2 separate regions of the Homo sapiens genome follow, and region 1 is linked to region 2. Evidence: fine-mapped expression QTL. A gene starts in region 2. The other region holds a variant in brackets. All regions are shown on one strand. Distances are between the middles of the regions.

Region 1 (2,787 bases), 28 kb after region 2:
CAGGCCTCCTTACCTTTGAATGTAGAACTCCACCCTGGGTTTCCTTTTTTTTCCCTCTTGAACAAGATGTATCAACTGGAGAAGCACAGGCTTCCTTGAACCAGACACTTCACCTGGGTCTCTCTGGGTTAGGGAGAAGAAAGAATGGCTATTAACCATTTGAGAGAAGAGGATGCCTGGTTATAAGGAGGGACTATTCATAGTAGAAATAATATGTCTTCCCATAGTTTTTGAAGGTGATCATTTTAAAGATGTTGACTTATCTGTTGTGTGGCTGCAATGTTGTGATGATGCATAGTGATTATGGTCCTAGATAGGAGAGATAGGTCCCCTGGGTCCTTAGGGTGCTTTGAGATTGTTCAACAGCCCCTGCCAGGAAGTTGGATCCTGACAGTTTAAGCTGGAAGACTGTTTATGTGGTGTTTGTTCAGGGTCTTTATTCTCCCTCTTCCAACCACTTGCTCTTTGCCTTCTGACCATTTCTTTATGAATCCCCACACTAGGAATGAGCAGAGGAAGTAAAAGGACCCGAAACACCAACTTCACTAACTAGAATTTTGGAATAAGGAGGATCAAGCTTGGGTTTCCTGTGGATTTCAGTTCTTTAGGTTCACTTGTGAGTGCTTGAAATTGCTCACAAGACCAAGCGATGACAAAGAGGGCCAGCAAGACTTTGCATTGCTTTGGCAGAGGAGCTGAAGGTGCCTTTGGGTGGAGATCGATGAACCGTAATCTGAGCTAGGGTTTTAGATCTTGACCTGTCATTTAGGAAAGTGCATGTGTAAATTGAGGTCTCTGTGGTTTCTTGGTCTTGGGCAGGTTACTGTTTTCACTGTCATCACTGGTGTTAGTGAGGGTCCTGCCAGGATAGCGAGTACCAGTGGTATAATGCCCAGACCTCTAGGAGCTGCTTCGGGCCAACAATCCAGCCCAGTTTGTTACTCGGTCTTCCTGCTGTCCCAGGGGTCATCTGACAACATTTCTAGGGAAACTGGGTGATCAGAATATGAACCCCATGTCCCTTTCTGGAAGTCA[A/G]TCCTTGATTTTGTTCTGCATCCTGCTTCTCACTCTACCAGGCCTCTCTCTGCTGGTTCTGTTTCTCACAGAAAGCAACCTGTCTGTAGAGAACTGGTAGAGGCCTGAGAGTCAGGAGTATTACAGCTAGCTGCAATGAACCTTGGGTCCCTTATTTTACACATGAAGAAAAGGAGGCCTCAGGTGGAGGATTAGCTTGCCTGTGGTTACAGCAAGAGATGTCGCTTATTGTCTAGCACCATGGGACTGTATCGGCCAAGGGTGGTGCCTGAGTGGCTGGTCTTGTTTTCTTTGCCTCCTGTTTCTTTTCCTCTCCCTCAGCCAAGTCTCAGGATAGATGCGAAGTATAGTCCGGTTAGAGAAGGTGAATATATGCTCTGGGTTATACGCCTATGCATGTCAGGTCCTGGGAGTGTGTGTGATGCATGGTGTTCCGATAGGCAGGCATGAGTCTGTCCATATGTGGTTATGAAGTTTCTCAATAGCTGATGGTTAGGTATCACGAGTCAGGAGTCCTGTGAGTCCTACTCTGTTGGACAAAGTGGTCATCTTTTTTCTTTGCTAACTTTAAGTTGAAAGTTTGTTTGAGGGGCTAGTTGGAAAGGCATTGACTTTAAGCAAGATCCGTGCCTCTGGACATAATGAACAGGCATCTCATGGGAACTTCCCACCACTGCCCTGGACAGGCTAAGCTTCAGAGGCCAGTTAGTCGTAAGTTTTATTGCTTCATCCTGGTCTGCAGTAAGGTCTGATACTTCAGTGTCCCCATTTGGGAACTGAGACATCTGCCTAGAAGAAGAGTGTAATCTTGCACTCGTCTAAGGGATCAGGACCACATTGCCCTCGGTGGACTGCTGCACTTTTTTGGAGATTTCCTCCCTTCAAAAAAAGCCTACTTTGTAACATTTTGTCATCTGAGATTTCAGATACCACCTTTTCTTTAGTTTCTCACCTGTTTAGGCATTTAGGCATGCTGGTCTGTGGCTAATGGTGTTTCAGATAGGAAGGATGGATATGTCTTTATCTACAGCAGAAGTTAGTTACCCTTTCATGAGGTGATTAGTTTACTTCTAGGTGGAAAAAGAGAGGACTTTGAACTTGGTGTTGTCACAGGAGCTGCTCTCATGGACAAGAGCCCATGGATTTTGTGGAGGAAGAATGTGTAGGAAACAAGGAGAAAAATCAGAAGACTTTGCACCTGTCAGGGAAGAACTAGTGAAGAGCAAAAACCAGTGTTTTAGTGGATGAAATACAGTTCCGAGGGTTTGGAATTAGGGAAGAGATGGCCTCAGAGAGGAGCATGGAGACCATGGGAGGTAGACCTGACTTGATACTTGTTGGCCATTTTAAGAACCAGGTATGTGTGAAGCCTTACCACAGGGATCAGAGGAGCAGGAGCAGTTGATGGTGACTCTGTATTTAACCATTTGAGAAACTGCCAAACTGTTCTCTAAAGTGGCTGTACCATTTTACATGTCTACCAGCAGTGTATAAGAGTTCCAGTATCTGCATCCTTGTCAACACTTGTTATTGTCTTTTTAAAGTTATTAAAGCCATTCTGTTGGGTGTGAATTCGTATCTCATTGTGATTTTGTTTGTTTGTTTGTTTTTGTGATGGAGTCTCACTCCGTCACCCAGGCTGGAGTGCAGTGGTGCAATCTCGGCTCACCGCAACCTCCACCTCCCGGGTTCAAGCAATTCTCCTGCTTCAGCCTCCTCAGTAGCTGGGATTACAGATGCCTGCCACCACAC
Region 2 (2,787 bases):
AGCTACTCGGGAGGCTGAGGCAGGAGAATCGCTTGAACCCAGGAGGCGGAGGTTGCAGTGAGCTGGTATTGCGCCACTGTACTCCAGCCTGGGCAACAGAGTGAGATTCCGTCTCGAAATAAATAAATAAATAAATAAATAAATAAATAAATAAATAAATAAATAAATAAATAAAATAGCATCACAAAAAATACAACATTTAGAATAAATTTAACAAAAGATGTGCAAAACTTCTATTCTGAAAATTACAAAACAGGTCGGGCGCAGTGGCTCACACCTGTAATCCCAGCACTTTAGGAGGCCGAGGTAGGAGGATTGCTTGAGTCCAGGAGTTTGAGACAAGCCTGGGTAAGATGGCAAAACCCTGTTGCTACAAAAATAAAAATAGCCAGGCGCGGTGGCTTATGTCTGTAATCCCAACACTTTGGGAGGCTGAGGCGGGGAGATCACTTGAGGTCGAAATTCGAGACAAGCCTGAGCAACATGGTGAAACCCTGTCTCTACAAAAAATACAAAAATTAGCCGGGCGGGTGGCGGGCGCCTGTAATCCCAGCGACTTGGGAGGCTGAGGCAGGAGAATTGCTGTCCGGGAGGCGGAGGTTGCAGTCAGCTTCGACCGCAGCCTGGGAGAGCAAAACTCCTTCTCAAAAAACAAAAACAAAGGGAGAAGAAGAAAAAGAAAAAGAAAAAAGAAAAACATGCCAAAAACACATAGTAACTGAAGGGAAAGGAATCTGCCAGCTTCCCACTATGGGAAAATCTGCCACTGTGGAAGCTGGCAGATTTTAAAAGTTTGGCAAACGGAAGCTGATGGAATTTCGATTTGATGGTTTCTATTTAGCTTCGTAAAATAGGCCTGGCATAAGGGGATTTGCTGTGAGTCAAGGTCTGAGGAAAGCGCCAGTTTGCAAAGCCGTTTTGGAAAACTGGAGCGTGGGGGTGTGTGCAGGGTGAGGGGAGGAGGCCTAGTCTGGTCCACCTTAGGTCTAGCAGAGACTACGTGGAGCTTTGAGCCGAATGCCCTGGTGAGCTGCCATGGCAACACAGCCGTGGGCACAGGCCCACGGCAACCCATCACTGAACAGAGTTGTGGCGTTTCAACAGAGAGTCTGGGACATCAGGCAACGTGGCGACCCGAAGCAGCCAAAATGAGACCTCGACAGCAAAGGCCTCGACAGCGGAGCCCGGACCTTTGCAAAATCTGCAAGTAACGCCAACGTCACAAAGCGCGACCGAGCCCTGTACGTCATCGTTCCGCGACGCCGACGCGGTGAGATGACGCCCTCCCGGAAGTGACCTCTAGAGCGGTGGTGAAACTGGCAGTTGACGGCTCCTGGGACTAGATCCCGCGAGGTAGCCCCCGAACTATTTCTCTACGTTTTCTCTTGATCCTCCCGAAATCTTCCAGATCCGCGTAGTGAGGAATCGTCTCCACCGTCATGGGGGGCGGAGACCTGGTGAGTGGAGGGAGGCCTGGGCGGGGGAGGACTGAGGCCGGGACGGAAATTGGCAGGGGGTGGGGGTAGAGGAAGGAGTGGATAACCATGGCAACGCAGCTTTGCTTTCGCCGGGAGGAGGCCGTTGCCCTGAAGAGGGGATGGATCCTTAGGGCAATGGAGGGGTGGGACTGAGATTTGGGAAAGTCCGAGGTGTGTCGCGAACAGTGACAGGTGGTGTTTGCGTGTTTGTTGACTGCGGCTCTACCGGCTGTAAATTCTGGGAAGACCGGGGAGGGGGCGGATGGAGCCATGGCTAGGAAAGGAGGTAGATATGGAGGACGTGTCACCACACTTTGTTTTGTATATCTTGTCTTGCCACACACCTCTCTTCCTTGGGTGAGAGTTCAGAGTCATGTCCTGGACTGAAGTAGGGGTGGTTTGTGCCCCATTCTCCCTACCCTAAGCCATGCCCTGGGGTCGTTTTTTATTTTTTATTTTTTTGAGACGGAGTTTCTTGTTGCCCAGGCTGGAGTGCCATGGCGCGATCTCGGCTGACCGCAACCTTTCCCTCCTGGGTTCAAGCGATTCTCCTGCCTCAGCCTCCCGAGTAGCTGGGATTACAGGCATGCGCCACCACACCCGGCTAATTTTGTATTTTTAGTAGAGACAGGGTTTCTCCATGTTGGTCAGGCTGGTCTCGATCTGCCGACCTCAAGTGATCCGCCCGCCTCGGCCTCCCAGAGTGCTAGGATTACAAGGGTTAGCCACAGCGCCCGGCCCTGGGGTCCTTTTTAAGCCTGAAGGGATCTTCCTGTCCATCTTTCTGACTTCCACACCTCCTTCAGTGCTGGATTCTGATCTGTAGTGGCAGAGCTTGCTTTTGAATTCATACCACTTAATATAAGTTATGTGGCAATGTCTCTTAAACTGAAACGTTCATTTGTAAAGCGCTAAGGCCCCAAATAGGGTAAATGTACCCACAAGAGCATGGGGCAAGGTTGGGAAAATGCTAGCCTCCGGAAAGTGGAGCTAATTGAACCAGCAAGTAGATCAGCTTAGCCGCCTGCCCAGTAAACCTATTAGTTTGTCATGTGTTCTCAATCACAGTGAGTGCCAGGACTCCATCTAGTTTCATCCAATTTAGTGTATTCTTCACATAACTGCATTTAAGGACAGGAAAGCTCTAATCCAGGGTTTCTCAACATTAGCGCTCTTGACAGTTTGGCCTAGATAATTCTTTGGGGGTGTGTGGTAGTGGTGGTAGTTGGGCTGTCCTGTGCATTGTAGAATGTTTAGCAGCATCACTGGCCTCTAGCCACTAGACTGGAGCTATCCACTAACACCCGTC

What was found. PIP is the estimated chance that this variant, and not a neighbour inherited with it, causes the effect.
Region 1: its variant is fine-mapped to the expression of CWC25 in lung (TOPMed, PIP above 0.99).

Annotation. Positions count from the first base shown.
Region 1 is chr17:38,795,997-38,798,783 of GRCh38, reverse strand. All of the region lies in intron 1 of PIP4K2B (phosphatidylinositol-5-phosphate 4-kinase type 2 beta), which reads left to right. Among named protein-coding and RNA genes, the nearest start is that of PIP4K2B, 2.2 kb to the left of the region's middle. RefSeq lists an enhancer at 1-51. The variant A/G (reference allele first, on the strand shown) is at 1,036.
Region 2 is chr17:38,823,836-38,826,622 of GRCh38, reverse strand. CWC25 (CWC25 spliceosome associated protein) reads left to right here and starts at 1,302. Exons shown (of 10, transcript NM_017748.5): 1 at 1,302-1,457. The coding sequence starts at 1,440. MIR4727 (microRNA 4727) reads right to left here and starts at 785; the gene lies at 731-785. RefSeq lists an enhancer at 1,963-2,594.